Linked DNA regions of Homo sapiens: all the other regions are linked to region 1. The links come from fine-mapping of genetic effects on gene expression. A gene starts in region 1. Each other region holds a variant in brackets. All regions are shown on one strand. Distances are between the middles of the regions.

Region 1 (8,187 bases):
AGCAATTTTACCATATCCACAAAGATAAAATACTATTTTTTTTTTTTGAGACGGAGTCTCACTCTGTCACCCAGGCTGGAGGGCAGTGGCGCGATCTCAGCTCTCTGCAACCTCCACCTCCCAGGTTCATGCCATTCTCCTGCCTCAGCCTCCCGAATAGCTGGGACTACAGGCAACCGCCACCACACCCAGGTAATTTTTTTGTATTTTTAGTAGAGACAGGGTTTCACCGTGTCAGCCAGGATGGTCTCGATCTCCTGACCTCATGATCCACTTGCCTTGGCATCCCAAAGTGCTGGAATTACAGGTGTGAGCCACCACACCCAGCCAAAATACTATTTTAAAAAGTGCCAAAAAAAGGTGAAAATAGTTGTCTATAGTTTAAAAAGGGGGTGGACAAGAGATTGATATATTTTTTTTTATTCTAAGGTTTAAAGCACTATTTGGTTGTTTTTTTTGTTTGTTTGTTTTGAGACAGAGTTTCGCTCTTGTTGCCCAGGCTGGAGTATAGTGGCGCGATCTTGGCTCACTGCACCCATCGCCTTCCAGGTTCAAGCGATTCTCCTGCCTCAGCCTCCCAAGTAGCTGGGATTACAGGCGCCCACCACCACGCACAGCTGATTTTTGTACTTTTAGTACAGACGGGATTTTACCACGTTGGTCAGGCTGGTCTCAAACTCCTGACCTCAGGGGATCCACCCGCCTCAGCCTCCAAAAGTGCTGGCCTCCAAAAGCTTGAGCCACCACGCTCAGCCTATTTGGTCTTTCAATCTATGTACATGTATTATTTTGATAAATGTAAACATGTAAACAATAACCTGAATTATCTTCAACTATACCAAAACAAAAAAACCAACCTAAATTAATCTACCTATTTGAACCTTCCAACAGTGCTCTGCTTTCGTTTTTAAATTGGGGAGAGAAATTTAGAGAGTATCTTTAGAAACCAAAAATCATGAAGTATGATTTTGATCACATTTTGTTTTGTTTTTGTAGAGACGAGGTTTCACTATGTTGCCCAAGCTGGTCTCGAACTCCTGGGCTCAAGGGATTCTTCCATCTCAGCCTCCCAAAGTTCTGGGATTACAGGTATGAGCCACTGCAGTCAGCCTATCATATGCTTTTGAAATTTCACAGAACCCAGTGTTTGGGTATAAGCTTTAGAGTTAAAAGACCTATGTTCAGATCCTGACTCAATCGGACAAGTCACGTTTCCAAGCCTGATCTATAAAACGAAAATTCCCACCACCTACTTGACAGGATGTTCGGAAAATTGGGTGAAATAATATGTAAGTAGTTGGCATGGTGCCTCACAGTTACTAGAACTCGATAAATGGTAGCTGCTTTGACAGCAATTATTACTATTTACTACTATTATTACTATTACTTATTTTCCCCCTTACCAAAATTTGCCGAAAATATTCTAGAACAAGCTTGTCCAACTCATGGCCCCAGCCCAGGTCAGCTTTGAATGCAGCCCAACACAAATTTGTAAACTTTCTTAAAACGTTATGAGATTTTTTTGCAATTTTATTTTTTAGTGCATCAGCTATCATTAGGGTTAGTGTATTTTATGTATGGCCTTCTTCCAATGTGGCCCAAGAAAGTCTAAAGATTGGACAGCCCTGTTCTAAGAACAAGGACATCAAGCTGCTTCTCAAATGGCTCAGAAGACTTCTGTTTGATTGCCTTAGCATGCTGAATTTCACACCACTCCATAACTTAATTCAACATTTCACTATTTATATCCTGGAGCAAAACTGAATGCATAAACTAAAACTCATCAGATAAACACTAAGCCCTAGCTGTTGGTCTCTAGAGAATAAAACACCAGCAAACTAGCTGCAAAAGAACATTATTTTTATGCCAATAAAACCTATGCAAAGCTTTAAAATGTAAGCCATATTCAACAATTTAAATTATTTTAAATTTGAATTTGTATCTCTTTGAAAGCATTGAATCGAAACAGACAACAGATGGACAAAAAATACTGCCTTTGGAATCTGACAGTTCTAAGCCTGAAGCCTACTTTGCCTTCTACTCACTAGTATGACCTTCAGCAAAATTCTAAACCTCTCTAAGCCTCAGTTTTCTTACCTGTATGACCAGGCACAACCAATTACGTCATGGGGTTACTGTGACAATTAAAGGAGGTATGTCCAAACAGCCCTGTAGTAGATGGTCCAAAAGTGAGAATTGGCCAGGCGCGTTGGCTCACGCCTATAATCCCAACACTTTGGGAGGCCAAGGCAGGCGGATCACCTGAGGTCAGGAGTTCGAGACCAGCCTGACCAACATAGTGAAACCCCATCTCTATTAAAAATACAAAAAATTAGCCGAGCATGGTGGCGCACGCCTGTAATCCCAGCTATTTGGGGGGCAGAGGCAGGGGACTCCCTTGAACCCGGGAAGCGGAGGTTGCAGTGAGCCGAGACTGCGCCATCGCACTCCAGCCTAAGCAACAGGAGTGAAACTCCGTCTCAAAAAAATAAAAAATAAAAAAGTGAGAACTGCTACAATTACATTACTATTTTGTTCCAAAAGCTAGAATTCAGGTTTAACTGTCTACAACTCCTCATGATATCCCAGTTCTCCAGCTCTCTTTCGCTATAAAAGTGGCTTCCTTATGAAAAAGGAAGAAAACTCATCTCTGTTCTTCAAGGGCAACAGTGGAGAGTCAAAGAGATGTCACAGGTACATTCTGAAACAGAAGGGAAAGAAGGTTGGGTGACCCATCAACATGTAGAGGTCAGTTCCCACGTGGCATTGGCCATTTCCAGTTGGGAACCACTTCTTAACAACAAGCCTAATACAAGCACCATCAAAGGGCAGACAGGCAAAGAAAGCAAAGAGGCAAGGAAGTCCAACTTTCCGTTTCCATGATCCACTGTGGAAGCAAATATATAACTAACAAAACAACTGGGTCAATTAGCCCCCACTTTGGGAGCATTTTTAACAGTGTGTTTTGCAGTTTTTGGTAGTTACTGTTATTAATAAGGTAATTCTTTAATTTCTTTAGACAAACAGTAAGAAGGCAGGCAGAGGAAAGGAGAAACAAAAATATTAATGCAAGCTGAAAAGCATAAGCAAAGCTTTCAGAAAGAGCTGAGAGAAACCTCCACCTTCCCAAGGAGTAACACCACAAGAGTATCTGTCCTCTCTATACCACTGCTGTACACATTTAATCAACTCAGTCCTTGAGAATAGCAGGAAATTTACTTACAGAATGTACCACCGCCTTTAAAATATAATGCTAGCAAAGAACCGCTGTCAGGTTCTGAGTTCTTTTCTGCAGCCTTCTTCAATAAGCATTTACTGACCACCTACAAAGTGCCAAACACTATGCTGTTTATTAGGGAAACCCTGCAACACAGTTTGATTCCTGTCCTCAGGGAGATCAGTACGAATAGGGAAGAGTCGAGTAAAGAGATCACCACCACAGAGAGTAAACACCAGGCACAAAGGAAGCCCAGACAAGCTCCAGTCCTATCAATATCCAGCCAACCAGCCCAGGGTTAGGAACTTTCTGAACCTAGGGAACACTCCTGAGCACCACAATTGAACCGTCACAGCAGTATTCCCACACCCCCACAGGTCCTTAGGCAGACACACCCACTGCATGGGCACAGACGCACAGCTGTGTCTGTGCATACATGTTTTGGTCATTAGTTTAGTCAACAAATACTGAGGGCCACACTAAACAGGCAGTTACCAGTGCCAGCTCGGGTCCTAATTCCTCATGTGACTTCGGACAAGTCACTTCCTGAATTGGTACTGGTTCATACCAAAGGCCACAGAAGACCTTGGAATATTCCTCCCCTCAGCTGTCAGCCCTCCTCCCTCGGTGGTGGTTCCACCCTTTCCTAAGCACTAAAAATTTAAAGGCTGAGACCATGAGTCAGTATTATTTTGAATTAACCATGTTCCTTTAATTTTTTACAGTGACCACTCCACCTCATTCCTTTCCTCCACCCACCCTGAACCGGTCTACATTTGAGATTTAAGCGGGGTGGCGGGGCGGGGATCCCTATGCAAATCCCTGACCTCCGGAGTTTTCAATCTAGTTGAGTAACAGAATCAAACATGAAGAGAGATATGTAAGATAAGGTACACCAAGCACTTATGACTAAAGACATTGCAAGGCCAAGAGCAGGTGAAATGCAGCGGGGGCGGACCGCACCGCGAGGGTAAAGCCTCAACGCCCCCCGGGACTTAAGGAGGGGAGACCTCTGGGCAGGAGAACTGAGAAGGCAAGTTCCCTGGAGCAGAGGGAGCAGCAGGGGTAGAGATCGGACGCCGGGAGACCCCAGGCGGCGGGCCGCAGCAGGTCCCGGCAGTCAGACATGTGGGACACTCCCGAGCGGCCAGAAAGGATGCAAGGCGGAGGCTGCAGTCGGGAAAGGAGGAGGGTCCGCGGGGCCGGAGAGGAGGGGCTCGGGGAAAGGACCGGAGGCGGACGCCGGGGAAGCGATGGGAAGGGGTCTGAGAGGCCGGGGGGGCCCACTGGGAGGGCTCTCGAATGGGCTGCTCTAGGGGAGACTGAGAGGGCGGACCTGGGGAAGGTCAGGGTGGTCCAGGGAGGTGGGCGGACCCGTGGCCAGGAGCCTCAGGGAAAATTAGGGAGTGGGGACACCGCGGAGGTGGCGCGGTGCGGGGTCCCCTCAGAGGGGCGCGAGGCTGGGCAGCTCTAGAGGAGAATCTGGAGAGGCGCGGGCCAGAGGGGAAAGGAGCTAGGGTCGTCCGGACTAAACAGGGACACTCACCTGCGAACCAGCGTGGAGAACACCAAGACGCCACGGCGATTCCTCGCCTGCTCGCCTGCAACTGCCGCACGTCCGGCGTCCTGGCCGCCGTTCTGACGTCACGCCTCGGCGCGCATGCGCGGCGGGCCCCGGCCGGTGGGGCGGGGTGTCTGGGTGGTTTTCTGAGAAACGGGACGGAAGGCGGCAGGGGGCGTGGGTCTCCCAGGAGGTCGGCGCTTCCACTAAAAGGAAGTGTTACAAAGTGAGATCCTGTCTTAAAAATATAAAAATTTAAAAAAAAATTGTTAGCACCCTAATCTTGGTTTCTAAATACCGCTCTCTAAAAATAGGGCCAAGGCGCCTTAGAGAAATGGGCGACTCTAGGACCCGGGCGCAGAAAGCTCCAGCTGAGCCGGGAGCGTTTTGTAGGCCAGAAGCTTGAGGTGCTCAAAAAACTGAAGGACCGGGCGTCCAAGGGCGCAGGGATCTACCCAGAGAGCTTCCGGGGGCCGCGCCTGGGACAATTTGAGCAGCAATATAAAGTACATTGCATTAAGTTATAACCTAAAGTATAAAACAGCCCAGAGCCCGTGCTGCTATAAATACGTGATTAAATAAATGAGGGAGAAGGGATAATCTTCCTTGCAGAGGAATTCTAATAATACCTCATCCAGAGGGGTGTGGTAATCCGTCCACACCCACCCTGAGTGTGGCCTATGCCTGGGGACGACCTTTCCAAGAGTACAGTGTGGAAAGAGGGCTGTAGAGCCACTCCACGTGAAAATCAAAGTGATTAGTCACTGCACTTGCCCTTGACATGTGATTAAAAAAAAAACCGTGACCTCAGTCTAACTGAAAGATAAACATCAGACAAATCTCGTTTGTGGGATATTCCTCAAAACACCTCACCAGTACTCCTCAAACTATCAAGGTAATCAAAAGCAAGAAAAAAACTGAGACACTGTCATATGCAACATGGTGATGTAGCTAGGCTATAAACTTAAAATAAAATTTAAGTTTAGGTAATAGTAGTTTTTAGTTATAAGAAATGTATAATGGTTATGTAAGATGTTAACATTAGGAGAAATTGTGTGAAGGGTATACTAGCTTTATAACTTTTTTGTAGTCTAAAATTATTCCAGATGAAAAGTTGGGGGTTTTCTGAAGACAATAGAGGGAAAATAAATGTTAGCCAGGTGAGATGGTTCATGCCAGTAATCCCAGAGCTTTGCGAGCCAGAGGCAGGAGGATTGCTTGAGCCCAGAAGTTTGACCTGCAATCAAGCCACTGCGTTCCAGCCTAGCAGGGGTTGGGGGGTGGTGTAGGGGTACTGCCTGGAAAGAGGCTTGAGAGAGCCTCCTGGCAACCCCACTCCTAGGGTGCTGAAAATGTTCTATACATTGATCTGAGTGGTGGGTACGTGTGTGTAAGTAAAACTTTATCAAGCTGAACACTATACTTAACATTTGTACATTTTTGGCCGGGCACAGTGGCTCACGCCTGTAATCCCAGCACTTTGGGAGGCCGAGGCAGGCAGATCACGAGGTCAGGAGTTTGAGACCAGCCTGACCAACGTGGTGAAACACCGTCCATACTAAAAATACAAAAAAAAATTAGTCAGGCCTGGTGGTGCGCTTGTAATCCCAGATACTCAGAGACTAAAAATACAAAAATTAGCCAGGCGTGGTGGCGGGCGCCGGTAGTCCCAGCTACTTGGGAGGCTGAGGCAGGAAAATGGTGTGAACCCGGGAGGCAGACGTTGCACTGAGCCGAGATCACGCCACTGCACTCCAGCCTAGGCGACAGAGAGACTCCATCTAAAAAAAAAAAAAAAAAAAAAAAAGATTTGTACATTTTTCTGTGTATAAATTATATCTAAATTTAAAAGGGAAAAACTCTTAAAAAAAATATTGGAAGAGCCCTATTATTATTGGTCTTCAAAACCCCAAACTCTGCCAATCAGGGCCCCTGTCTTAACCCAGCTCCTCTCTGGGGAAAATTTAAAAAATGCAGGGTAGGGAGTCCTATGATGCCTGCAATCCCATCTTTTGCAAGATATTATAGCTTAGTCAACACAAGAGTTCAGAGATTTGTGTGACATGGGGTTCTTCCTGGTTCCGCTGCTTCTGGATGAGCTCGGGTAAATTGCCTGACATCAACAAGCTTCTTGACCAGCCCTCATTAAGGCTATACTAGCCCTGACCACCTTCAGGGTCAGTCTTAGGGACCTTTCAGGGTCTGAGTTTGGAGTATCCAAAAATACACTAACACATTCTCTCTGAGTGATGGGACTGTGGATGACATTTCTTTTTTCTACTTTTCTGCATTTTCCAAGTTTTCTTTCATGAATATGTATCACTTCAACAACAGGAAAAAGTAATATTTAAGGCTGGGTGTGATGGCTCACGTCTATAATCCCAGCACTTTGGGAGGCCAAGACAGGAGAATTACTTGAGCCCAGGAGTTCAAGACCAGCTTGGGCAACACAGTGGGACACTTTCTCTACAAAAAAATAAAAATAAAAAAATTAGACTGGCATGGTGGCATGCATCTGTAGTCCCAGCTACTTGAGAGGCTGAGAGGGAAGCTTCACTAGAATCCGGGAGGTCAAGGGTGCAGTGAGCCATGATTGTGTCACTGCACTCCAGGTTGAGCAAAAGAATGAGACCCTGCCTCAAAATAATAATAATTTTTTTTTTGAGATGGAGTCTCACTGTCACCCAGGCTGGTGGACAGTGGCACCATCTAGGCTCACTGCAACCTCCGCCTCCTGGGTTCAAGCAATTATTCTGCCTCAGCCTCCTGAGTAGCTGGGAATACAGGTGTGCGCCCCCACACCCAGCTATTTATTTTGTATTTTTAGTAGAGACAGGGTTTCATCATGTTGGCCAGGCTGGTCTCAAACTCCCGACCTCGTGATCCACCTGCCTCGGCCTCCCAAAATGCTGGGATTACAGGCGTAAGCCACTGCACCCAGACAAAAAAAAAGTAATATTTTAATAAAGTTCAGTTTAAGTAGGCGTTCCAGTACCTGGAGGAGGGAGTGTCCCATAACAAGTTTTCTGATTCAGTAAAACTGGCTTTCTGGGCTGGGCGTGGTGGCTCACGCCTGTAATCCTAGCACTTTGGGAGGTCGAGGCATGCAGATCGCTCGAGGTCCAGAGTTCGAGACCAGCCTGGCCAACGTGGTGAAACCCCATCTCTACTAAAAATACAAAATAATTAGCCAGGCGTGGTGGCGGGCACCTGTAATCCCAGCTACTTGGGAGGCTGAGGCAGGAGAATAGCTTGAACCCAGGAGGCGGAGGTTGCAGTGAGCTGAGATTGTGCCACTGCACTCCAGCCTGGGCGACTGAGTGAAACTCCAACTCAGAAAAAAAAAAAAAAAAAAGAAAGAAAAGAAAAACTGGCTTCCTGTTCATGTTTATTGAGAAGAGGCCAGGGG
Region 2 (8,187 bases), 120 kb after region 1:
CATCACCCCCCCAGATGCCTCCTTGCCCCTCCCTAGTTCCTGTTTTCCCACACACTGTTACTTTTCTTCCCTGCTGTATAAACCCCTAGTTTTAGTCAGTCAGGGAGATGGATTTGAGACTGAGCTCCCATTTCCTCGGCTGCAGCACCCGATTATAGCCTTTTTCTGTAGCAATACTTGTCTCAGTGATTGGTTTTCTGTGTGGTGAGCAGCAGAACCTACACCAAACCCCTGGTGTTTTGGTAACAGATTTTGGTTCCCTGACCAGGAATGTGTTGTTTGTGGTTCCGCTGCCTTGGACCTGGGGTCTCAGAAGCCCTCCTAAGCTGCCTGCCCACTTTTGGCTGGAAGCGAGTTTCCATCTCTCTTTGGCTTTGCCTTAGCTGGCCCCGACTGCATTCCTGATTGCCTTGGAAGAAGCCCCTTCCTAGAAGCACCTCTACATCCAAAGAGGTGCATGTCCTTTTTGGGCCCATATAGCAGGATCTGCTCCTCTCAGTTTGGGAAAATTTTAAAGGAATTTCCATTTGCAGGTTGAACAAGCCCTGCAAAGAGCTTGATGGGGGAGCACCCTGACTGTTGTTTCAGTATGGATACTCTTGGGGGCTTGTTTGTAATTGTGTGGTGTGCGGGCAAGTGCATGTCTTTTGTAGGTACCAGACAGCAGGATCAGCTCCTCTCAATTTGGGAAATTCCTAAGGAATTTTTGTTTGCAAAAACCAAAAGCCTAACCGATGGAGAAAGGAAGCACCCCAACTGTTTCAGTTTGGACACTTGGGGCTTGTTTGTTGCAGCAGCAACTGGATTGTGTTCTGGCGATTGTGTGTGTGTGTCTGATATAGTCATGGGAAATTAGAATTTGGTAAACTTGATTTTTTTTTTTTTTTTTAAGACAGAGCCTTGCTCTGTCAACTAGGCTGGAGTGCAGTGGCACAATCTTGTCTCACTGCAACCTCTGCCTCCCGGGTTCAAGCGATTCTCCTGCCTCAGCCTCCCGAGTAGCTGGGATTACAGGCGCAGCCACTACACCCGGCAATTTTTGTATTTTTAGTAGAGACAGGGTTTCACCATGTTTGCCAGGCTGGTCTTGAACTCCTGACCTCAGGTGATCCACCCACCTTGGCCTCCCAAAGTGCTGGGATTACAGGTGTGAGCCACTGCGCCTGGCCATAAACTTGATATTCTTTTGCAATACCGTTTGGCCACAATATCGTTTGGAATGTGGAGTTTGCTGTTAAATGGGAAAGTGGGTTGGAGTTGCATGTATCCAGGTTTCTGTGCTGCTGTTCTAAGCAGGGTTGAGCCTGCTTAGTATGTGGTGCTCTCCTTTGGTGCTGTTTGGCCACAATGTTCTTTGGAGTCTGGGGAGGTTGGGCCTTTGAAAATCAAACTGCTATGGAAACTACCCAAAATTTTGGTTCACAGCCTTCACCAGATTACCTACTGGGGCAAAAGAAGTGTAACCATGTAAAACCAGTATGTTTGTATTGCTATCTCATTGCTAGAGCTCTAAGGTAAAAGCTATTGGATCTTTGTGTGTGTACGCATATCTATATGTGTTTATTTGTATGTACACTTATTGTTATATGTTGTGTCTACCAAATTGGCTTATAAATAAAAGAGCACTCAGGCCGGGCATTGTGGCTCATGCCTGTAATCCCAGCACTTTGGGAGGCCGAAGCGGGCAGATCACAAGGTCAGGAGATCAAGACCATCCTGGCTAACATGGTGAAACCCCGTCTCTACTAAAAATACAAAAAATTAGCCGGGTGTGGTGGCGGACGCCTGTAGTCCCAGCTATTCAGGCGGCTGAGGCAGGAGAATGGCATGAACCCGGGAGGCGGAGCTTGCAGTGAGCTGAGATGGCGCCACTGTACTCCAGCCTGGGCAACAGAGCAAGACTCCATCTCAAAAAAAAAATTAAATAAATAAAATAAAATAAAAATAAATAAAAGAGCACTCATACATTAAGTAAATTAAGTCCAAGCTATTTTCAAGTTCATGTGACTTAAGTAAATCTTTACTAGCTTGCTTTAAAATGGTTGGTAAAATGAAAACAGGAATGTCTTCAGAATTGTCAGCATATATTTTTGTCTGGTTTTTATATTTGTCTCTGGGAGATATTTTGAGATGTCAGGGTTTGGCATGGAAGGTTATAAAACTATAAAGCTGGCCAAAACAAAATGATCTTCATGCAAATTTTTTGATAAGTCAGACTGTTATTGGTTTAATGAAAACAGCTGAATCTTCTGAGTTATTAGTGACAATGCCCATGTAGTTAACTTTAAGGTTCTTATTTCAGTGAACATCTGATATTCACAGATTATAAAATTGTTAAGAAGGAAATTACTAACTTTAAATGATGGTGTTTAATCTCTCAGTTTTCAGAAGTAATCTAGATAAACTGCTAAAAATGAAAGAATTGAGTACATGTAAATGGGATGTTTTAGGTAAACTTTTTGTGTAATTTAAAATCTGGAAATTATTTTTGATGCTCATTAGATATGCAGGTTGCTTCCAATTAAAAAAGCTTTGTGATATAGGAAAATATGTTTCTGAAAATTGTGGAACTGTTCTTAACTATATAAAATGTTCATATCTGATAGTTCAGGATTTCTTGCTTTTTAGGGTTTCACTAAAATTTAAGGTTACTAAGGATAAGAATTATAGTTAATAGTAATTCTGTATATAAATGTGCCAAAAGATGTATTAGAAAAACAGTAATTTTGTCTAATTCAGAAGTTATCTAAAAGTTAGTTCAAATTACACCTTTAAAAAGATTATTTATGAAACAAGGCAGTAGGAATCAGTAAGTAAGGGAGAGAGATGTGAAAAAAGTTATATATATGAAGATGTATTTTTGGTAAGGAAGGTTATAAAGAAAAGCTAATTTTGTATGAGAAAGAATCTTGTATGGTAAATTCTTTTGGCCTACAGTAAAATGGTAAGAAAGAAAAGAAGAAAGGAGGAGGAGGAGGGAAAGGAGGAGGAGGGGGAGGAGAAGGGGGAGGAGGAGGAGGCGAAAAAAGAAGGAAGAAAAAATCTGGGACTGAACAGAAAGCCCAGGCATGTCATGGATAATCTGTGTAAGTCACATGTAATTTTTTTCTGTTTCTCTGTGTGTCTATCTTCATGCACATACAGACAAAATAGAAAGTTGAAAAAGTTTAGATAGTAAAGCATTCTTTAAAACCTGATAGACAATTGGAGAAATTTGGCTAATTAACATTTTCATAGTTAAAGCTCTCAGTCCTGATTAAAATAAAATAAATATTATAAAAAAACGCAGGCCGGGCATGGTGGCTCATGCCTGTTATCCCAGCACTTTGGGAGGCTGAGGCACCTGAGGTCAGGAGTTCGAGATTAGCCTGGCCAACATGGTGAAACCCTGTCTCTACTGAAAATATGAAAACTAGCAGGGCGTGGTGGTGGGTGCCTGTAATCCCAGCGACTAGGGAGGCTGAGGCAGGGGAATTGCTTGAACCCAGGAGATGGAGGTTGCAGTGAGCCAACACAATGCCACTGCACTCCAGCCTCGGTGACAGAGTAGGACTCCATCTCAAAAAAAAATGTATTGGCAGTTTGGCAATTC[T/GGCAATTCT]TTTTTACTGTAGTTAAGCATGAAGCCAGATTTAGTGTACATGTTTGTATTGCTTCACACTATGTTTGTTGTTTTGCATGGATAGTGCTGGCACTAGAGTACTTACTGGCCATGTGCCTAGAATGAATTTCTTGATTGCACAGGATGTATGGTAATATTGGTGGACTTAAGGATACTGACTTGTGTGATCAGGAATAAAATATTCATTATGTGGGGTTTTCTTGACTCTGGGTAACACTGCAGCCTCCAGGGTAACTGAGTGGGGAAAAGAATGGGGGGTCTGTTTCCTGTTTGTTTTTACTTCTTTTTTTTCTTTTTTTTTTTTTTTGAGATGGAGTCTCGCTTTGTCACCCAGGCTGGAGTGCAGTGGTGCAATCTTGCTCACTGCAACCTCCACCTCCCAGGTTCCAGCTATTTTCCTGCCTCAGCCTCCTGAGTAGCTGGGACTACAGGCGCCTGCCACCACACCTGGCTAACTTTTGTATTTTTTGTAGAAACGGGGTTTCACCATATTGGCCAAGCTGGTCTCGATCCCCCGACCTTGGGATCCGCCTGCCTTGGCCTCCCAAAGTGCTGGGATTACAGGCCTATTTTCACTTCTAGTTTTTATTTGTTGCTGTTTGTTCTCCTTTGGGTTTTTCTTGTGTATGCGTAGATATAAAACTGATGTTTTTTAGTTTTTAGTAGAAGGCATTTATTTGGTTCTGTGAATAATTATTTTGTTTCCTATGCATTTCTAGCAAGTCATTATTTGTTCTATTTATCTAGAATTCCCAGGCTATCTTTGTTTGGTCTTCAGGAATGGATGGAGCACAACAGCCATTTGAAATTTGGTTGGATTTGCTTGCCTCTAATGATCTACAGAGCTATGAGAGTTTTAAGGTTCCCAGCCACAAAAAAATGAAATAATAAAAGACTTAAGTTCTGAACAGAAATAGCATATTACAAATTTTGTAATTTGGCAAAAGTAGGTGAGAACAGAAATGTTTCAATGGTGTTTATATTCAAGGTAACTCAATTCAATCAACAATTTGAGTTGGTTTCAGATCTTTTCCTTTAGGTGGTGAAGAAAAACTGTGATATGGGTACATGGTTTTAATATTCAGGAAAGATTGGCCTTATCCTTAAGGAAATTATATTGAGTAGAATTTCTCTCAAACTAATTTAAAGTGACATTCACTTGGATTAATTAGTAATTTTAAAAAAGGTGAGACTTCCTGGTGATTTGTGATCTCAAGCTGTTTATCACTGATGGGCCTTCATGTATGTACCTGAAAACAAATTATGTGCACATGCTGCACTGGTTTACAGATTTGAGTGGTGAAGGTTGCCTAACCAGTCGTCAGTACTGTATCTAGAAACCAATCTTAGAAATGTGTGTTGATGTGTTTTCAAAATAGCTGAAAAGAAATTGCTGTGTGCTTATTCTTACTTTCTCCCTGTTTCGTTGTATAGTATTTAAGTGAAAGATTACTTCTCATACTAAATTTCCAAAACTGATATTTGCATTTATCATTTTTTAATGATAAAGAAAAAATGTTAGTTAGTCTTATTTTGCTAAGTCTGGCATAGGACTTATAATTTTTTTTTTTTTTTGAGACATGGTCATACTCTGTCACACAGGGTGGATGGCATGATCTTGGCTCACTGCAACCTCTGCCACTGGGCTCAAGTGATTCTCCTGCCTCAGCCTCCCAAGTAGCTGGGACCACAGGCACCCACCACCATGCTCAGCTAATTTTTGTATTTTTAGTAGAGATGGGGTTTCACCATGTTGGCCAAGCTGGTCTCAAACTCCTGAGCTCAAGTGATCCACCTGCCTCGGCATCCCAAATTGCTGGGGATACAAGCATGAGCCACCATGCCCATCCAGACTTACAACGTTTTTTATGTTTTTGTTTACAGTTATGTTACTAGAATACTAGCAATTAGACATATGTGATGAGTAACCTAACTACTTTAATACAGTGGTTTGAAGTGTTGCTGGCAGTAACTTCTAAACACCAATTACATTGTTTTAATTTGTAACATGTTAGAGAGAATGATAGTTAAGTATTAGGTCTTATTGTTTGAGAAAGTTTCCTCTCTATCAAAGCGTAAACATTTTATATTATAATTTTCGCTACCTGAATGACTATTTTATAGAAACTTGTGATCCTATTTTGTGATATTGGGTGTCTGTCTGAAACCTTTGAAATCTGACAGATTTTCTAACAGCAAAATTTCAGGTTTTTTTTTTTTTTTTTTTTTTAGATGGAGTCTTGCTTTGTCACCGAGGCTGGAATGCAGCGGCACAATCTTGGCTCACTGCAACCTCCACCTCCTGGGTTCAAGCCATTCTCCTGACTCAGCCTCCCGAGTAGCTGGGATTACAGGCTCCCGCTACCAAGCCCATCTAATTTTTGTAGTTTTAGTAGACATGGGGTTTCACCATGTTGACCAGGCTGCTCTTGAATTCCTGACCTCAGGTGATCTGCCCACCTCGGCCTCCCAAAGTGCTGGGATTACAGGCATGAGCCATCACGCCTGGCCAATTTCAAGTTTTAAATTCAGTCTTTTTGTCCTCAAACTAAACTTTTTGGATATTAGGTTCCCTGAAGTTCAAGAGAGACATGGTTGGGATTATTAGGCTTGTTATATTAGAACTATGCAGGAAGCATTGTCAAATCTGAGGTGGTGTTTAGCTTCCTTCAAGTTATATTTATATAGATGTGTTGCTAACATGGGTTCTAGGATTATATGAGATTCCTAAAATTCTGATATGCCTTAATATATGTTGTCAGTAATAGTTATGATTGTCACGTTAAATTGTTGTATGCCACAGAAATAACCAAATTTTCCTGTCAACGGTGTCATTAACTATGGCTGTCTTAAGACTTTTGTCATCCACAATTGATGTTTTACTTTGATCCTTCTCAAAAAAAACTGGCTTAGAATTAGCTACAGTCCAAGGCTTACTTCTTTGGAGGAGTTCTTGAAAAGGACTCGTGAGTGCAGGTTTCTGATAACTTTGGAGATTGTGCCATTGGATTAGAGGGAGAACTTCCACTGCACAAATTGAAAGGCTGATGTGTTCCTGAAGATTGCTAACCCAATATGAAGCAGAGCAGGAGGTGACTGCATGGACTGAACTACTGCAGGACAGAAATAATTTTTTTTATGGCTTTTGTTGTTTGAAATATTGCTGATTCTTTTTGTTTTGTTTTTCAGAGTCTGGAGAATTTTTTTTTTTTTGGAGCTATTTATAGCCTTGAAATATACTTTAAGTGTATTGAGTATACTTTTGTAAACAGAATTTGAGTCATATTTCTCTGCCTAATTTCTCCAGAATTTGTAAACTATTCGTGAATATTCTTCATTCATGGCAATGTGTAATTCTTTGCACAAAGACCATGTTTTCTTTTGTAATGCGACACAATTGAAGGGACTGGTTATTTTCTCAGGGCTTTGACTGAAATAGTCTTGTGAGATGTTCCAGCAAAGCCAACTTGGGAATCTATATGGACAGTGATTCTTGTTGCACTTTGTGTGAGTAATCAGGCCAAGAATATGGGACTGACACTTATTATGCAGCTAGGTTGGTCCTGCTGTGATTTGTCTTTGGCAGAAGTGTGGACCAGGGAGAAATATTGTATGTCAGAAGAAAACTCTATATTAGATTAACCTTCGATTCCTGGGTGGCTACATGGTCAGCCATGGTATGGAGCTGCCCACGACACCCCTCCTCAGCATGAAGCAGCCAGAAAGATCAATGACGAGATTCCTCATGATTGTGGAACTGATAAATAGAAAGGGGGGACTGAAACCAGCCCGAGGGTCCCATAGACAGTTGCTTTTGGATAAACATAGAAATGGATCCTTCTGCTGTTAAAGCTTGAAACTTGTATTTGTTTGATATGAGTTCCTTCCTCAGAAAAGGGATCTCAGGAAGTGTCAAAGGAGTGAAACTCACCAGATCACCACATCAGATGCCTCCTTGCCCCTCCCTAGGCCCTATTTTCTCACACACTGTTACATTTCTTCCCTCCTACATAAAGCCCTAGTTTTAGTTGGTCAGGGAGATGGATTTGAGCCTGAGCTCCCACCTCCTTGGCTGCTGCACCTGATTAAAGCCTTCTTCCTTGGCAATACTTGTTGTCTCAGTGATTGGCTTTCTGTGTGGTGGGCAGCAGAACCTAGACCAAACCCCTGGTGACACATACACAACTCACCATGCATGCACAACTCACACAACATACACACATACACATGAAACACCACACACGCACAAGATGCAAAAAAAACACGTTTGCACAATGCACACAGCGCACACACACACACCATACATACACGACACATGCAAAACACAAAACACACACAGCACACACCATACATATGCAACGCATATGCACCACACATACACAACATACATGTAACATGCCCAACACACAAAACCCAGAACATACACACAATGTATACCACACATGCACAACATACATACACATCATAAAACCACTATACACACAAAGCACACACAACATAAACACTACACACACACGCAACATACACCACATAGAAAACACAAACACACCCCATACACAAAAAACACATCACAC
Region 3 (8,187 bases), 270 kb before region 1:
AGCCCCAGCTCCAGAATTAGGAGGACACTGATCTCCAACAAGCATTTCTCCCCTCAACCCCCTGGAAGTACCCCTCCTGAACACATTTCAATTACTTGAGCCCATCACAGCCTAATAGAAAATAATCAAAAACAAGTAATTCAAGCACTACTTTTCACAATTATCTTAGGCATTTGCTTCACCCTCCTACAAGTCTCAGAATACTTAGAGGCTCCCTTTGCTTTTTCTGATGGAATTTATGGCCCAACATTTTTTATAGCTACAGGCTTTTATGGACTTCACATCATTATTGGATCAACTTTCCTTACTATCTGCCTTCTCCGCCAATTAAAATACCACTTTACATCCAGCCATCATTTTGGCTTTGAAGCCACCGCCTGATATTGACACTATGTAGATGTAGTATGACTATTCTTGTATATTTCTATCTACTGATGAGGGTCTTACTCTTTTAGTATAAACAGTACCATTGACTTCCAATCAATTAGTTTCGATAGTATCTGAAAAAGAGTAATTAACCTAACACTAGCCCTAGTAATCAACACCCTACTAGCCCTGTCACTTATAGCTATTACATTCTGGCTCCCACAACTTAATATTTATACAGAAAAATCCAGCCCCTACGAATGAGGATTTGACTCGTTATCCTCCACCCGCATTCCTTTCTCCATAAAATCATTTCTAGTAGCCATCACATTCCTCCTATTTGACTTAGAAATCACCCTACTGCTACCCTTACCATGAGCCCTTCAAACAACCTGACACTAATAATTAGTACATCCCTTATGCTAGTTATCATTTTAATCCTAGGGTTACCTTATGAATGAACTCAAAAAGGATTAGACTGAACTGAATTGGTAAGTAGTTTAAGCCAAAATAAATGATTTTGACTCGTTAGTTATGATAGAACATGTTTACCAAATGCCCCCTGTTTACATAAATATTATATTCACATATACCATATCACTTCTGGGGTTATTAATCTATCAATCCCACTTAATATCAGCAGTTCTTCTACTCCTTTCTCTCACAGTCCTAGCTGCCAGCATTGCTATATATAAATACAACTTTTTTCCTACTATGCCTAGAAGGAATAATATTATCATTATTCATCATAAATACCCTTATAACTTTATTTACTTATTTATTTATTTATTTTATTATTATTATACTTTAAGTTTTAGGGTACATGTGCACAATGTGCAGGTTAGTTACATATGTATACATGTGCCATGCTGGTGTGCTGCACCCATTAACTCGTCATTTAGCATTAGGTATATCTCCTAATGCTATCCCTCCCCCCTCCCCCCACCCCACAACAGACCCCAGAGTGTGATGTTCCCCTTCTTGTGTCCATGTGTTCTCATCGTTCAATTCCCACCTATGAGAGAGAACATGCGGTGTTTGGTTTTTTGTCCTTGTGATAGTTTCTGAGAATGATGATTTCCAATTTCATCCATGTCCCTACAAAGGACATGAACTCATCATTTTTTATGGATGCATAGTATTCCATGGTGTATATGTGCCACATTTTCTTAATCCAGTCTATCATTGTTGGACATTTGGGTTGGCTCCAAGTCTTTGCTATTGTGAATGGTGCCTCAATAAACATACGTGTGCATGTGTCTTTATAGCAGCATGATTTATTGTCCTTTGGGTATATACCCAGTAATGGGATGGCTGGGTCAAATGGTATTTCTAGTTCTAGATCCCTGAGGAATCACCACACTGACTTCCACAATGGTTGAATGGGTTTACAGTCCCACCAACAGTGTAAAAGTGTTCCTATTTCTCCACATCCTCTCCAGCACCTGTTGTTTCCTGACTTTTTAATGATCGCCATTCTAATTGGTGTGAGATGGTATCTCATTGTGGTTTTGATTTGCATTTCTCTGATGGCCAGTGATGGTGAGCATTTTTTCATGTGTTTTTTGGCTGCATAGATGTCTTCTTTTGAGAAGTGTCTGTTCATGTCCTTCGCCCACTTTTTCATGGGCTTGTTTGTTTTTTTCTTGTAAATTTGTTTGAGTTCATTGTAGATTCTGGATATCAGCCCTTTGTCAGATGAGTGGGTTGCGAAAATTTTCTCCCATTTTGTAGGTTGCCTGTTCACTCTGATGGTAGTTTCTTTTGCTGTGCAGAAGCTCTTTAGTTTAATTACATCCCATTTGTCAATTTTGGCTTTTCTTGCCATTGCTTTTGGTGTTTTAGACATGAAGTCCTTGCCCATGCCTATGTCCTGAATGGTAATGCCTATGTTTTCTTGGGTTTCAGGGTTTTTATGGTTTTAGGTCTAACGTTTAAGTCTTTAATCCATCTTGAATTAATTTTTGTATAAGGTGTAAGGAAGAGATCCAGTTTCAGCTTTCTACATATGGCTAGCCAGTTTTCCCAGCACCATTTATTAAATAGGGAATCCTTTCCCCATTGCTTGTTTTTCCCAGGTTTGTCAAAGATCAGATGGTTGTAGATGTGTGGTGTTATTTCTGAGGGCTCTGTTCTGTTCCATTTATCTATATCTCTGTTTTGGTACCAGTACCATGCTGTTTTGGTTACTGTAGCCTTGTAGTATAGTTTGAAGTCACGTAGCATGATGCCTCTGGCTTTGTTCTTTTGGTTCAGGATTGACTTGGCGATGCGGGCTCTTTTTTGGTTTCATATGAACTTTAAAGTAGTTTTTTCCAATTCTGTGAATAAAGTCATTGGTAGCTTGATGGGGATGGCATTGAATCTATAAATGACCTTGGGCAGTATGGCCATTTTCACGATATTGATTCTTCCTACCCATGAGCATGGAATGTTCTTCCATTTCTTTGTATCCTCTTTTATTTCACTGAGCAGTGGTTTGTAGTTCTCCTTGAAGAGGTCCTTCACAGCCCTTGTAAGTTGGATTCCTAGGTATTTTATTCTCTTTGAAGCAATTGTGAATGGGAGTTCACTCATGATTTGGCTCTCTGTTTGTCTGTTATTGGTGTATAAGAATGCTTGTGATTTTTGTACATTGATTTTGTATCCTGAGACTTTGCTGAAGTTGCTTATCAGCTTAAGGAGGTTTTGGGCTGAGACAATGGGGTTTTCTAGATATACAATCATGTCATCTGCAAACAGGGACAATTTGACTTCCTCTTTTCCTAATTGAATACCCTTTATTTCCTTCTCCTGCCTGATTGCCCTGGCCAGAACTTCCAACACTATGTTGAATAGGAGTGGTGAGAGAGGGCATCCCTGTCTCATGCCAGTTTTCAAAGAGAATGCTACCAGTTTTTGCCCATTCAGTGTGATATTGGCTGTGGGTTTGTCATAGGTAGCTCTTAGTATTTTGAGATACGTCCCATCAATACCTAATTTATTGAGAGTTTTTAGCATGAAGGGTTGTTGAATTTTGTCAAAGGCCTTTTCTGCATCTATTGAGATAATCATGTGGTTTTTGTCTTTGGTTCTGTTTATATGCTGGATTACATTTATTGATTTGCATATGTTGAACCAGCCTTGCATCCCAGGGATGAAGCCCACTTGATCATGGTGGATAAGCTTTTTGATGTGCTGCTGGATTCAGTTTGCCAGTATTTTATTGAGGATTTTTGCATCAATGTTCATCAAGGATATTGGTCTAAAATTCCCTTTTTTGGTTATGTCTCTGCCCAGCTTTGGTATCAGGATGATGCTGGCCTCATAAAATGAGTTAGGGAGGATTCCTTTTTCTATTGATTGGAATAGTTTCAGAAGGAATGGTACCAGCTCCTCGTTGTACCTCTGGTAGAATTCGGCTGTGAATCCATCTGGTCCTGGACTTTTTTTGGTTGGTAAGCTATTGATTATTGCCACAATTTCAGAGCCTATTATTGATCTATTCAGAGATTCAACTTCTTCCTGGTTTAGTCTTGGGAGGATGTATGTGTCGAGGAATTTATCCATTTCTTCTAGATTTTCTAGTTTATTTGCGTAGAGGTGTTTGTAATATTCTCTGATGGTAGTTTGTATTTCTGTGGGATTGGTGGTGATATCCCCTTTATCATTTTTTATTG[C/T]GTCTATTTGATTCTTCTCACTTTTCTTCTTTATTAGTCTTGCTAGCGGTCTATCAATTTTGTTGATCCTTTCAAAAAACCAGATCCTGGATTCATTAATTTTTTGAAGGGTTTTTTGTGTCTCTATTTCCTTCAGTTCTGCTCTGATTTTAGTTATTTCTTGCCTTCTGCTAGCTTTTGAATGTGTTTGCTCTTGCTTTTCTAGTTCTTTTAATTGTGATGTTAGGGTGTCAATTTTGGATCTTTCCTGCTTTCTCTTGTGGGCATTTAGTGCCATAAATTTCCCTCTACACACTGCTTTGAATGTGTCCCAGAGATTCTGGTATGTTGTGTCTTTGTTCTCATTGGTTTCAAAGAACATCTTTATTTCTGCCTTCATTTTGTTATGTACCCAGTAGTCATTCAGGAGCAGGTTGTTCAGTTTCCATATAGTTGAGTGGTTTTGAGTGAGTTTCTTAATCCTGAGTTCTAGTTTGATTGCACTGTGGTCTGAGAGATAGTTTGTTATAATTTCTGTTCTTTTACATTTGCTGAGGAGGGCTTTACTTCCAACTATGTGATCAATTTTGGAATAGGTGTGGTGTGGTGCTGAAAAAATGTAGATTCTGTTGATTTGGGGTGGAGAGTTCTATAGATGTCTACTAGGTCCGCTTGGTGCAGAGCTGAGTTCAATTCCTGGGTATCCTTGTTAACTTTCTGTCTCGTTGATCTGTCTAATGTTGACAGTGGGGTGTTAAAGTCTCCCATTATTATTGTGTGGGAGTCTAAGTCTCTTTGTAGGTCACTCAGGACTTGCTTTATGAATCTGGGTGCTCCTGTATTGGGTGCATATATATTTACGATAGTTAGCTCTTCTTGTTGAATTGATCCCTTTACCATTATGTAATGGCCTTCTTTGTCTCTTTTGATCTTTGCTGGTTTAAACTCTGTTTTATCAAAGAGTAGGATTGCAACCCCTGCCTTTTTTTGTTTTCCATTTGCTTGGTAGATCTTCCTCCATCCCTTTATTTTGAGCCTATGTGTGTCTCTGCACGTGAGATGGGTTTCCTGAATACAGCACACTGATGGGTCTTGAGTCTTTATCCAATTTGCCAGTCTGTGTCTTTTAATTGGAGCATGTAGACCATTTACATTTAAAGTTAATATTGTTATGTGTGAATTTGATCCTGTCATTATGATGTTAGCTGGTTATTTTGCTCGTTAGTTGATGCAGTTTCTTCCTAGCCTGGATGGTCTTTACAATTTGGCATGATTTTGCAGTGGCTGGTACCGGTTGTTCCTTTCCATGTTTAGTGCTTCCTTCAGGAGCTCTTTTAGGGCAAGCCTGGCGGTGACAAAATCTCTCAGCATTTGCTTGTCTGTAAAGTATTTTATTTCTCCTTCACTTATGAAGCTTAGTTTGGCTGGATAGGAAATTCTGGGTTGAAAATTCTTTTCTTTAAGGATGTTGAATATTGGCCCCCACTCTCTTCTGGCTTGTAGAGTTTCTGCCAAGAGATCTGCTGTTAGTCTGATGGGCTTCCCTTTGTGGGTAACCCGACCTTTCTCTCTGGCTGCCCTTAACGTTTTTTCCTTCATTTCAACTTTGGTGAATCTGACAATTATGTGTCTTGGAGTTGCTCTTCTCGAGGAGTATCTTTGTGGCATTCTCTGTATTTCCTGAATTTGAATGTTGGCCTGCCTTGCTAGATTGGGGAAGTTCTCCTGGATAATATCTTGTAGAGTGTTTTCCAACTTGGTTCTGTTCTCCCCGTCACTTTCAGGTACACCAATCAGACATAGATTTGGTCTTTTCACATAGTCCCATATTTCTTGGAGGCTTTGTTCATTTCTTTTTATTCTTTTTCTCTAAACTTCCCTTTTCACTTCATTTCATTCATTTCATCTTCCATCACTGATACCCTTTATTCCAGTTGATTGCATTGGCTCCTGAGGCTTCTGCATTCTTCACGTATTTCTCGATCCTTGGCTTTCAGCTCCATCAGCTCCTTTAAGGACTTCTGTGCATTGGTTATTCTAGTTATACATTTGTCTAAATTTTTTTCAAAGTTTTTAACTTCTTTGCCTTTGGTTTGAATTTCCTCCTGTAGCTCAGAGTAGTTTGATCATCTGAAGCCTTCTTCTCTTAACTCGTCAAAGTCCTTCTCCGTCCAGCTTTGTTCCGTTGCTGGTGAGGAACTGCATTCCTTTGGAGGAGGAGAGGCGCTCTGCTTTTTAGAGTTTGCAGTTTTTCTGCTCTGTTTTTTCCCCATCTTTGTGGTTTTATCTACTTTTGGTCTTTGATGATGGTGATGTACAGATGGGTTTTTGGTGTGGATGTCCTTTCTGTTTGTTAGTTTTCCTTCTAACAGATAGGACCCTCAGCTGCAGGTCTGTTGGAGTTTGCTAGAGGTCCACTCCAGACCCTGTTTGCCTGGGTACCCGCAGCAGTGGCTGCAGAACAGCAGATTTTCATGAACTGCAAATGCTGCTGTCTGATCGTTCCTCTGGAAGTTTTGTCTCAGAGAAGTACCTGGCCGTGTGAGGTGTCAGTCTGCCCCTACTTGGGGGTGCCTCCCAGTTAGGCTGCTCGGGGGTCAGGGGTCAGGGACCCACTTGAGGAGGCAGTCTGCCCGTTCTCAGATCTCCAGCTGCATGCTGGGAGAACCACTGCTCTCTTCAAAGCTCAGATGAAAATGCAGAAATCACCCGTCTTCTGCATCGCTCATGCTGGGAGCTGTAGACCGGAGCTGTTCCTATTTGGCCATCTTGGCTCCACCCCTCCTTATAACTTTAAATATACATTTTACCCTAGCAACCGTAGTACCCATCACCCTACTAGTATTTGCTGCCGGCAAAGCCGCAGTGGGCCTTGCCTTACTAGTTTCAATTTCCAACACATATGACTTAAACTATGTGCATAACCTAAATTTACTTCAAAGCTAAAAGTTATCATTCTAACAATCACACTGCTACCAATAACATGACTCTCTAAAAATCCTATACTCTGGATGAATATAACCACTCACAGCCTAATTATCAGCTTTATTGCCCTATTATTCTTTAATCAATTCAACGACAATCTATTCAACTCCTCATCAACTTTCTCCTCTGATCCCCTAACATCACCCCTTCTAATCTTAACAGCCTGGCCATTACCTCTTATAATTACAGCAAGCCAGTATCACCTCTCCAGTGAATCCCTCCCACAGAAAAAGCTCTATATTTCCATATTGATCTCCCTACAGGTTTTTCTAATTACAGCATTTACAGCCACAGAACTAATTATATTTTATATTCTCTTTGAAACTACACTTATCCCCACCTTAATTATTATTACCCGCTGGGGCAACCAACTAGAATGCCTCAATGCAAGCACATATTTCTTACTTTATACACTAGTAGGATCTCTCCCCCTACTTATTATACTTACTTACACCCAAAATATCCTAGGCTCACTGAGCATAATAACATTTAATACCCAACAACTATTAATTTCCTGATCCAACAACTTTATATGGTGTGTATAATGGCTTTTATGCTAAAAATACCCCTATACGGACTTCACCTATGACTTCCTAAAGCCCATGTAGAAACTCCTATTGCCAGTTCAATAGTACTTGCAGCAGGACTCCTAAAACTAGGCGGCTATGGCATAATACGACTTAACCCTTATCCTCAGCCCCCTGACAGAATATATAGTCTATCCCTTCCTCATGTTATCCTTATGAGGTATAGTTATGAGAAGCTCTATCTGTCTATGACAAACTGATCTAAAGTCACTTATTGCATATTCCTCCGTAAGCCATATGGCACTTGTTATTATGGCTATCCTTATTCAAATCCCCTGAAGCTTTATCTTGCTATTATCCTCATAATTGCCCACGGACTTACTTCGTCCCTACTTTTCTGCCTAGCAAATTCAAACTACAAGCGAACCCACAGCCGAATCATATTACTCTCTCAAGGGCTTCAAATATTATTTCCACTAATACCCTTTTGCTTATAGCAAATCTTACTAACCCTGCCTTACCCCCCTCCACTAATCTAATAGGTGAACTCCTCGTAAGAGTGGCTTCACTCTCCTGATCAAATATTACCATTATGCTTATAGGATGTAATATATTAATTACAGCCCTTTATTTCCTTCACATCCTTGTCACAACACACCAGCAAACACTTA

Which allele goes with the higher level. Alleles are on the strand shown, and positions count from the first base shown. SD is a standard deviation of normalised expression in the study named. Not every link is listed here.
For the expression in sun-exposed skin of the gene that starts at base 4,826 in region 1, T is the high allele of the variant in region 2 and GGCAATTCT is the other (moderate effect, 0.42 SD a copy in GTEx).

What was found. PIP is the estimated chance that this variant, and not a neighbour inherited with it, causes the effect.
Region 2: its variant is the best candidate, but not a certain one, in a credible set for the expression of PLEKHB2 in sun-exposed skin (GTEx, PIP 0.56).
Region 3: its variant is the best candidate, but not a certain one, in a credible set for the expression of PLEKHB2 in whole blood (INTERVAL, PIP 0.69).

The regions. Positions count from the first base shown.
Region 1 is chr2:131,101,975-131,110,161 of GRCh38, reverse strand. PLEKHB2 (pleckstrin homology domain containing B2) reads right to left here and starts at 4,826. Exons shown (of 8, transcript NM_001100623.2): 1 at 4,764-4,826. RefSeq lists an enhancer at 4,973-5,102.
Region 2 is chr2:130,977,391-130,985,577 of GRCh38, reverse strand. All of the region lies in intron 4 of ARHGEF4 (Rho guanine nucleotide exchange factor 4), which reads right to left. Among named protein-coding and RNA genes, the nearest start is that of SMIM39, 54 kb to the left of the region's middle. The variant T/GGCAATTCT (reference allele first, on the strand shown) is at 3,593.
Region 3 is chr2:131,372,410-131,380,596 of GRCh38, reverse strand. It overlaps the pseudogene MTND4P21, the pseudogene MTND4LP28, the pseudogene MTND3P18 and the pseudogene MTCO3P18. Among named protein-coding and RNA genes, the nearest start is that of RAB6D, 12 kb to the right of the region's middle. The variant C/T (reference allele first, on the strand shown) is at 4,026.